Linked DNA regions of Homo sapiens. The protein of the gene in region 3 purifies or fractionates together with the protein of the main gene of each other region. This does not show direct contact. Each region holds a gene or a part of one and is shown on either strand. Other genes may lie near its edges.

The links.
Region 1: the proteins of MMRN1 (region 3) and ACP3 purify together in Homo sapiens (affinity purification with mass spectrometry; 3 studies listed by BioGRID and IntAct, with this or other methods). This does not show direct contact.
Region 2: the proteins of MMRN1 (region 3) and AZGP1 purify together in Homo sapiens (affinity purification with mass spectrometry; one large-scale study listed by BioGRID and IntAct). This does not show direct contact.

The regions. Positions count from the first base shown.
Region 1 is NC_000003.12:132,323,811-132,327,466, forward strand, and holds part of ACP3 (prostatic acid phosphatase isoform PAP precursor), read left to right. Parts: intron 1-3,656. UniProt on the Homo sapiens protein: A non-specific tyrosine phosphatase that dephosphorylates a diverse number of substrates under acidic conditions (pH 4-6) including alkyl, aryl, and acyl orthophosphate monoesters and phosphorylated proteins.
Region 2 is NC_000007.14:99,966,081-99,969,637, forward strand, and holds the end of AZGP1 (zinc-alpha-2-glycoprotein precursor), read right to left. Parts: intron 2,351-3,557; coding exon 2,075-2,350; intron 1,207-2,074; coding exon 923-1,206; 3' UTR 650-922; downstream 1-649. UniProt on the Homo sapiens protein: Stimulates lipid degradation in adipocytes and causes the extensive fat losses associated with some advanced cancers. May bind polyunsaturated fatty acids.
Region 3 is NC_000004.12:89,936,253-89,939,908, forward strand, and holds part of MMRN1 (multimerin-1 isoform 1 precursor), read left to right. Parts: coding exon 1-546; intron 547-3,656. UniProt on the Homo sapiens protein: Carrier protein for platelet (but not plasma) factor V/Va. Plays a role in the storage and stabilization of factor V in platelets. Upon release following platelet activation, may limit platelet and plasma factor Va-dependent thrombin generation.

The DNA.
Region 1 (3,656 bases), on a different chromosome or scaffold from region 3:
AAGAGCAATAGAACATGATATAATATCTAAGAGTGATGAGGATATAAAAGAAACAAGACTAGCCACATACAAGTTGATAATTGTTGGAGACAGTGGTGGGCTCATGATAAAAATCTCCACTTTTAGGCTGGGCACAGTGGCTCACGCCTGTAATCCCAACACTTTGGGAGGCCAAGGCGAGTGGATCACCTGAGGTCGGGAGTTCGAGACCAGCCTGGCCAACATGGCGAAACCCCGTCTCTACTAAAAATACAAAAATTAGCCAGGCGTGGTGGCAGGTGCTTGTAATCCCAGCTACTTGGGAGGGTGAGGCAGGAAAATCACTTGAACCTGGGAGGCAGAGGTTGCAGTGAGCCAAGATCATGCCATTGCACTCCAGCCTGGGCAACAAGAGCAGGACTCCATCTCAAAAAAAAAAAAAAAAAAACTCCACTTTTGTATATCTTTACATTTTCCACTGGATATAGCCTCGACTGTACTCACCAGGTTCTCCACACCCTAAGCCACATGCCAGATTTGTTTAGCAGATTCAGTGGAGCAGGTTCATTCATGGGGGCACCAAACCAAAAGTCCTTTTAAAAACAGTTACCTATGATTTAAAAGTGTGAAGTGATTGTAGTATGATGGGGAAACAGTGGGCCAACTATCATGAGAATTAGGAGATCTGGACAGCTACATGATCTCTTTGATCATATAGTTTTCTTACTTGCTCAGTGCAGCAGTAGTGCCAACCTGTCCTCAGACGGGGATGTAATAATTAAAAGAGGTAGCAGGGGAAAATTCTACAAACCATGGAGGGTTGTGCAAATGTAAGGAATTATTATTTTTTTTTATTTTTATTTATTTATTTTGAGACGGAGTCTCACTCTGTCACCAGGCTGAAGTGCAGTGGCACGATCTCGGCTTACTGCAACCTCTGCCTCCCAGGTTCAAGTGATTCTCCTGCCTCAGTCTCCCGAGTAGCTGGGACTACAGGCATGCGCCACCACACCCAGCTAATTTTTGTATTTTTAGTAGAGATGGGGTTTCACCATGTTGGCCAGGATAGTCTTGATCTCCTGACCTCATGATCCGCCTGCCTCAGCCTCCCAAAGTGCTGGGATTATAGGCATGAGCCACTGTGCCTGGCCAGGAATTGTTATTATCTTGGATGTCTTTCTATTACAATTACCACTACTACTGCAAAAATCCTAATTGCTAATAAAGTATTTTTAGGTTTTTAAAGGATTTCATAGAGTATGATTGCTGGACTGAGCACAGAGGTAATAATTGGTAGAGCAGCAGTTAAGAAGATTGCTCTACCACAGAATTAAAAGAATGTCTTCGCATAGTCCAAGAACTCCAGCTGAATTTTGAAACTCCAAAAGCTCAAGGAACACCAGCTTCACATTTGCCTGCGGGAGGGGTGTGTGCACACATTTTGATTTCCAGCCCTGGAAGTGGAGAATGGTTTATTAAGTGTTTCTCCAGGACATCCCTTCCAAAGGGTTGACAGCATGTTTGAGCAACTACCTTGGAAACACTTAAAACCTACTGAAATGTAGGGGAGTACAATTATTTCTGAACTATGGGCCAGAGTGAGAAAGTTTGCCCAAGTCTCATGATTATGTTCCAGTTCTCTGCTCTTCAAAACACTCTGCTAAGGTGACCACACTTGTTTTTCTCTCTCAGGCCATTCTGTCATTTAGTTGCATAACCTCAGTTCTATTCTTTCAATAATATACATAGTTCACAGTGCCTTCGGGGTAGTTTCCGTATCAAGGTTTTGGTTTCTTCTGATACAAAACACACACACACACACACACACACCCCTTCCAATCCTAGAGGAAAAGAGTATACTAAGTAGAGTTAATAAAGAAGCGTTAGATCCCAGACCATTCAGATTTAGCTGGTGGGACTGTGAGGAGTGTGATCATACAGAAATGAACCTCTCACAGGTGGTTAAGTATGCTGGAGTTGGAGGCACAGCCTGTGTTTGAATATCAGCTCTACCACTTCTTACATGCTGTGTGAGTTTAGACAGGTCACTTAATTAAGCTAAACTTCCTCATTTGTGAAATGGAAATAATAATAGTAACTGCTTTGTGGAACTGATGAGAAGATTACATCTATGAGAAGCACTTAGCACAGTTTCCAGGACAAAGTGAGTGTTCAAAAAATGTTAAGGAGTTACCGTTGTGGTTATAGGTTGGTGGGAAGCAATGTAAATTATTTTATTACAATGTCTCTCACCTGACTTCTCTTTGGCTAACTCAGTGGCTCTCAACTTGGGGTGATTTTCTGCCCCTATGGCAGAAAATGTGCCTTTTTCAGTTGTCACAGCTGGGGAATGTTACTGGCATCCGGTGGGTAAAGGCTAGGGATGCTGCTAGACATTCTACAATGCACAGGACAACCCCCACAACAAAGAATTATCTAGCCCAAAATGTCAACAATGCTGAGGTTGAGAAGCCCTAGAAACTAAAACAGTGTGGGGTTTGTAATTTATTGAAACCATGTAACAACTTTAGTTATTCAAAGACACATTTACCTGGGATATAAAAACTCTAAAATGTACTTCAATTGTGGAAAGAGGCATCAATGATTAACCATAATCATTTCTGATCATGACCAAGTCACCCCTGAGACTAGTAACTGCAGGTGCTCACAAAAAAATATGCAGCTGTCCTTCCTGCCTTCAGGGGATCATTCATGAAAGTAATTTCTCACCTGACCAAAATGATCGCTTAACATTTATTGCATCATTGCCCCTGTTTCTGTAGACTACTCTACCGAAGTTTTAATTTGTCACTAGTTTAAAGGGCCAAAAGATCTGTTTTCTTCAGATATTAGAGACACAAACCAAGCATCTCCCACTTTCTTGGAATTCCTTCTCAAAAATGACTAAAGTCTGAGACTGTTTTCTTATTTAATGTCTATTGAATTCTGTTTTACAGAATTTCAAAAGAGCAGGTTCTTAGCTTACTTTTCAATGGAACATTTTAGCCAGGTAGTATAAGTACAGGTGCGGGTAACCTCAGATAAATCAAGGTGTTATGCAGCTGTCTCTATATTAAAAATATTTGCTGACATCAGTGTAGACTTCATCTTGTAGTTCTTCAGTGTTTTCTTTCCTTATCTTTTGCTCATAAGATGGCTTTGTGTTTGGTTTGATATTATACTGAGAAAGCATATTAGAATCAAAGCACCAAGATTTCAAAAGTCCAGACTACTCTTCCCAAAGAGAAATGTGCAATCACAATAGCATGACATGGGTACAAATATAGAAGTATGTTATTAAAGTATTGAGAATTAGCTTTCCTAACCTCCCCACCTGCAATCTTTTACTCCTAATCTCCAAAAAATGAACAAATCATTGGCTCAAAATGGTCACAAATTGTATGTGGTGTTAAAAATCTATTATTTTTATTGTATATAAAATGTTGCCAGGTGTGGTGGCTCATGCCTGTAATCCCAGCACTTTGGGAGGCCAAGGCAGGTGGATCACTAGGTCAGGAGTTCAAGACCAGCCTGGCCAACATGGTGAAACCCCATCTCTACTAAAAATACAAAGATTAGCTGGGTGTGGTGGCGTGTGCCTGTAATCCCAGCTTCTCGGGAGGCTGAGGCATGAGAATCACTTGAACCTGGGAGGCAGAGGCTACAGCGAGCCAAGA
Region 2 (3,557 bases), on a different chromosome or scaffold from region 3:
TCTCATAGGGGGTGTACACCCCCTGTGGTATTGGGAGTAATGTCAGCTTCTCACCTTTTGGTTATTAAGAACAATGTCACGGGGGGAGGATGTAGACCCCTGCAATATTGGGAGTAATATCCTCTCCACCCCTGGATATTAGGAACAATATCAAAGGGGGGGTGTACAACCCCTGCAATATTTGGGTAATATCATCCTTGTCCCCCCTGAATATTAGGAACAATATCACAGAGAGTTTAAACACCCCTTGTATATTGGGAGAGATATTCTCCCCTCCCCAACTGGGTATTAGGAACAATATCAAGGGGGGGTGTACACCTTCTGTGATATTGGGAGTAATATCATCTTTCTTCACTCTGGACATTATGAACAATATCACAGGGGGGTGTACACTGGCAAGTAATATCATCCTCTCCCTTCATGGGTATTAGGTACAATACCACAAGGCGTCTAGGGACACCTGAACAATCCCCAAGGGAAAGGGGGTTCAGGCCACACTTGGGATTGCCCAGGTCAAGGTGCCCAGGAACCATGGCCTCCAGGGGAAACCAAGAGTTTCAGATGAATTCAGTGCTTGAGGGCAGAACCAATGAGAAAATCTAGTCACATTTCTACAGCGCATCACCGTTAAAAAAAGGATTCTCTGTTATGCTAGGCAAGGAGGGATGATTATTTATTAGCTTCTACAGATTAGACAATGGGGTGGGGGTGGGCTCAAGGTGAGATGATTTTTTGGGTCCAAGTCTACTCAAGACAGGCATCCCAGTCTTCGGTCTCCAAATCCACCTCCTGTCTGTCCCCCCACACTGCTCCTCAGGCCTTGTGGATCCATTGACTGTGATTTCTGTGGTTCAGCTCCCACATCAGGCAGGAAGGGCAGCTACTGGGTCTGAGATCCCACATTGCCTCCAACCCTTGCTTCCTAGCTGGCCTCCCAGGGCACCACGAGGGGCTGGGCCAGGCTGCTGTGCTGCACGTGGCAGGAGTAGGGGGCTGTGTCCTGCGGGGGCACTGCCACCACCACCCAGGACTGGTAAGTGCCATTTCCATTGTGAAGAACATCTCCCCGTAACTCAGGCTCCTGCACCTCGCCGGCCCGAGTCCAGTGCACATCAATTTTCCCTGGGTAGAAGTCGTAGGCCAGGCACTTCAGTTTCTTCTTTTCTCCTGGGGCCTGGTGGCTGGTGACCACCACAGAGGGAGGATCTGTGGAGGGATAGAGTGTGACACTGCAGGCTTGAGGTGGACTTCTCCCGGCCCAGGTCTCTTCCTACCCCCACCCCTGGATGTCAGCGATCAGCAGAGCTCGAAGCTCTGTACCTGCCCACCCCCAGCCCCGGGAGACTTTCCAGAATATCAGGGAAGGCTGACGCTTTCCCTCTTGCCCAATCCCCACCTCACCCATGTATTGACTCTGACGGCAATAAGTTGTGAATGCTCCGTGTGCTTCTCCATGTTTTCCCACATCTCAGTGGGCTTTGGAGTTCTGTCCCCCAGTCTCAGTCCAGCTGCTTGGTTCAGCCCATGCCTCTATCCAGCAACCACTTCCCTGCAGCACTGCACAATCCTGAGTCTCACTACGTCTCCAATCCAAGTCTCAGCTTGCAGCCATCAATTCCGCTCACACTGGCTTGCTCTTGTCCTTCTGGGGCTGACATTTTACACGCCTCCCTTCTCTCCACCACCCAGATGGGAGGCATCATTGTAGAGATAAAAAACGATGGGATTTGGAATCTGAAATCTGGAATTTGAGTCCCAGCTCTGCCTCTTACAGACAGTGTTACCCTCACCTCCCTAACCTCAAGCTCCTTGTCTGTTAATTGGAGATGATTTGGGGACACTCATCAAGAAAGAATGGCCTTCCTGGCCCATTCTGCCTGAAATTTTGATGATGTTCTTTTTGGACCACAAATTATATTATCCCAGGGAAGGAATAAATCCTAAAAGATGAAAGCTGGGGGTCTGAGGGACATCCAGGAACAGATGAGACCGGACTAAGATGTTGCCTGAGCTCCTAGCCTGAGATCGTCTTTTATTCTGGGCTCAGTACTGGGGAGCAGGAAGCAGTGAGTACCTTGCCGGTCCAGGATATTTTTGCTGTATTTCAGGTATTTCCGCAGAGTCGCAGGGCACTCCTCCTCCAGGTAAGCCTTGGCCCGCTGCACGTAGACTGGTTCTGCCTCCCACTTCTGCTTGGTTATCTGGGCTGCTGGGTCGAAGGGGACCCAGGCTGGGATTTCTTTGTTGAATTCAATGTAGTCCTTTCCATCATAGTAATATTTCCAGAATGCTCCGCTGCTTCTGTTATTCTCGATCTCACAACCAAACCTTCCCTGCAATACGTGAGACCCTGAAAACTCCCCCGACCCCACAGAGAGACAGTCAGCCTGGTGAGAAATTTATCAAAATAACTCTTAGTCTTGCACATTGGGCAACCCAAAAGAAATAAAGGTTTTTGCAATTCAAGCATGCAATCCCTTTATCAAGACAAATAGGTTATTACTCCAATATATACAACAGACAGAGAGGGGCTAACTCAGTTTGGTTTGGCATTTCAGGTTTGTCTCAGATGAGATATGTTCCTCCTTAAGAGAGCTACAGCCTGGGCGCTGTGGCTCATGCCTGTAATCCCAGCACTTTGAGAAGCTGAAGCGAGTGGATCGCTTGAGCCCAGGGGTTCCAGACCAGCCAGGGTGATATGGCGAAATCCCACCACTACAAAAAATATAAAAATTAGCGCAGCATGGTGGTGCATGCCTGTAGCCCCAGCTACTCAGGAGGCTGAGGTGGGAGGATCACTTCAGCCTGGGAAGTCAAGGCTGCAATGAGCCAAAATCACACTACTGCATTTCAGCCTGGGTGACAGAGTGAGACCCTATCTCAAAAAAAAAAAAAAAAAAAAAAAAAAAAGCACCAGGCCCAGTGGCTCACACTTGTAATCCCAGCACTTTGAGAGGCTGAGGAGGATGGATCACCTTAGGTCATGAGTTCGAGACCAGCCTGGCCAATATGGTGAAACCCCATCTCTACCAAAAATATAAAATTAGGCTGGACGCAGTGGCTCATGCCTGTAATCCCAGCAGTTAGGGAGGCTGAGGCCAAAGGATCACCTGAGGTCAGGAGTTTGAGACCAGCCTGGCCAACATGGTAAGACCTCATCTCTACTAAAAATACAAAAATTTGCTGGGTGTGCTGGCACATGCCTGTAATCCCAGCTACTCATGAGGCTGAGGCAGGAGAATCGCTTGAACCTGGGGGACAGAAGTTGTAGTGAGCCGAGATGGAGCCATTGTACATCAGCCTGAAAGACAGAGCAAGACTCAGTCTTAAAAAAAAAAAAAAAATTAACCAGGAGTAGTGACACATGCCTGTAGCCTGTAGTCCCAGTTATCGGGAGGCTGAGGCAGGAGAATCCCTTGAACCCAGGAGGCAAAGTTTGCAGTGAGCTGAGATTGCATCACTGCACTCCAGCTTGGGTGACAAGAGCAAAACTCCATCTCAAAAAAAAAAAAGCTACAGAATATGAATATATTTCTATCTCTTCTATAGCATCTCTT
Region 3 (3,656 bases):
TTGAGACTCGGTTGCAAGACATTGAGTCTAAAGTTACCCAGACGCTCATACCTTATTATATTTCAGTTAAAAAAGGCAGTGTAGTTACAAATGAGAGAGATCAGGCTCTTCAACTGCAAGTATTAAATTCCAGATTTAAGGCGTTGGAAGCAAAATCTATCCATCTTTCAATTAACTTCTTTTCGCTTAACAAAACTCTCCACGAAGTTTTAACAATGTGTCACAATGCTTCTACAAGTGTGTCAGAACTGAATGCTACCATCCCTAAGTGGATAAAACATTCCCTGCCAGATATTCAACTTCTTCAGAAAGGTCTAACAGAATTTGTGGAACCAATAATTCAAATAAAAACTCAAGCTGCCCTATCTAATTTAACTTGTTGTATAGATCGATCGTTGCCTGGTAGTCTGGCAAATGTTGTCAAGTCTCAGAAGCAAGTAAAATCATTGCCAAAGAAAATTAACGCACTTAAGAAACCAACGGTAAATCTTACCACAGTCCTGATAGGCCGGACTCAAAGAAACACGGACAACATAATATATCCTGGTAAGCTGTTACTGAAAAGTAACTTTTAATCTCTCTTTTTACTTAAATGATATTTAATAGATCTGTACAGTTGAGCAAGACCATTAAACATAAAACTACATACTTGAACTTGGATAGATAGTCAAGTTGTGAAGATCACTGACATTATTTAAATCTGAATCTATCTTACAGTATTTCAGACATCAATACAAAACAAATATTTCTAGTGTATATTTGGCTATGTGTTTTTAAAATTTTTCTGACTAGACCTCTATAAAATAATTAAATTTGCTCCTATGGAACAATTTGCTTTGCACAAGTAATTAAACAAAGCTATTAGGCAAGGAGATCTTTAATAGACCAGATTTACTTATTTTGGCATTTTACCATATCTGATATGCAATAGGAACTCAGTAAATACCTGTTGAATGATCATCTGACAATGAATGTTCAGGAAATAGATTTGGGTAAATCATAGAAGGCCATCAATGCCAAGCTAAGTACTTAGACATGATTTTGTAAAGAGTAGGGTGTCTGAAAATTGGTATCAGTGGATTGGTTGTGATAAGAGCTGCAACTCAGAAGCATGAAGCTAGCAATAGTGTGTAGTGTGATTGCAGAGGTGATATTAGGGATGTTACTGAATGAATATTGGCAAGAGCCATAGAGGAAGCTCTAAGGCTGATGTGAGAAATGTTGGAAAGTTCCCATCAACAGAAACAGAGGGAGAGTGGCAAGAAAAATGATTTGAGGAACATCAAATCTTGATTCTGGTCCTAGATGTATTAGTAAGTTTCTGTGTTAGTTAATAGCACTAGGTAAAAAGTTCACCTCTCTAGGCCTTAGTTTCTTCCTTTTAAGTGATGAGATTGCAGTAGGTGATTTGCTGAGGTGCTTAGTAGAGATATGCCGAAGACTGCTTCACTGTAAAAAAATCCACGATCTGTTCACAGCCTTAATGCATGACACTTGGAGAAGAGAGAGATCTAGACTTTCCCGATGTTTTGAATTTGGGAAATGACAGAATAGTGGTACCATTAACAGATGTTCTAAACACCAAGGAAGAAGCATGTATTTGGGAAGAAAGAGGAATTGTGTGGTGCATATAAATTGCATAATAGTACCTCTGTATGAAGGAAGTGTTTTATGAATATGGTTGTCATATAAGTAATATTGAATAATCTTTTCTAAATATGAATATCTCTTCATTCTTACAAAAAGTAATGGCTGTGTTTTTCTCATATGAGTCTGCTGTTAAATTATAGCCCATTTGTATGAATTTTGTACTTTATTTCTTTTTAATTACAAAGGATGATCATTATTCTAACATAATATGACTTCATATTTAATGTATGAATGTTTTGATAATATTAAAAATAACAGAATAATAGAGTTGAATTATCTCTACTATTTAAATTAGTATATTTATTTATGACTCCCCCAGAGTAATCTGACCTAATAGAACTAATTTTACTTCTGTAGGAACATAGAAGAAACTATTTAGACGTATATGTTTCCCAGAGAAAGGTAGTATCTCAATATAAGATGTTCTTAAAATAACAATTTTGGGAGATATAAGGAGTTGTTTTTTCCATACTATTTCCATTATTGGTCTTCATGTGGACACTTCATCATGATCTTCAATTAGCTATACAGCATGTGTGACCACACACCAGGCAAGCTATGTCATTTTTTAAACATATATATATATATATATATATATATATATATATATTTAAAATATATATATGCTATTTTCATAGTAAGTATAAAATTGAAATAGCCTCAAATAAATTGAGGAAAAACATTTATAGAACATTAAGAACTTGCAAACTTTGATAATATAATGAATGCATGTTAGGACATTATAAAAATTGTATCTAGATACTTATTGTGATTGACTCAATATTGGGCTTAATAGACTAATAATAGGAAATAACTCAGTTTTGATTCTTATTTTCCAATAAGGCTTTGATAACATTGCTTCCTGTTCCTTTATTTACTGACTGTAGAACTTTTTATGTTCCTGTCTACCAAAAATAACTATTAAAGTTCTTTATTTTATTTAAGCAAAGATACCAATAATGATGCCAAGGTAATAAAGATATACTGACCTAATTCCCACGTGCAAGGTAGATATTCCTTTTATGCCAGGCCGGGCCAGCAACATAATGTATGGGACCCTTTTAAGTGGTTGCATAGGTTTGCATGCCCATTAAGCCAGCCATACTTCCATGGGCCATAGAACAGATGTCAATCATTGGGCAGCTCAGCAGGCAAGGTCTATGAAAGATGATGAAACCAGTGGACTCAGGCTAAGTTCTCCTGTAAGAATAGAACAATTGCAGAATAAACTACTACTTTTGATACCCTGTTTTATACCAGGGGTGGGACACACTGTTTAAATTTGGCTGTTTCATTTCACCTTTGATATTGTATAAGTATTATACAGCCACATTGCTCTCCCACATAACTAAAGCCAGAAGATAATTTATCATCATCTTATGAATCTCAGAGTCATATTATTCAGATTCTAGCTGCCATCATTTGCAAAATAAGTACAGTATATAGAAAAAAGCATATAAATATAGTGTTTTAATCTTAATTTTAATAACTGATAACTTACTTTGAAGCCTGATAATATGAATACCGTAATAATACGACATTGGTTAGTATTCATTAACATTTACTATATCTCAGGCACTGTGAAAATTCCCAATATTCATAACTTCATTTAACAATACCTGTGAGGTAAGTATTATTATTTATTCTGAAGATGAGTAAACTGACCCTCGGAGACATTAACTAAAGTATCCTGCCTAAGGTCATTCAACTAGTAAGTGATAGAGCTTGGCTTCTGGCCAGCTAGACTCAGGGCTCAGTCCTCAACCACATGCTCAAAGAAATTATAGAGTGTGTTCACATGCCTTTCTCTTCTTTCTGTTTCTGTTTCATGCATCATATGTTCTTCAGTCTGGCCATATCTGAATATTCCATATGGCTGGAGCCGATATTTTTAGGGAGTTTCTTTTCTTGAAGATCCAAATACTGACAAGTTGTTTCTGCACATGAGGAAGTAGAGGTGCTACTTTTCAGTTTGGCTTTTTTGGGATATGGCCAGTGGGTACTTA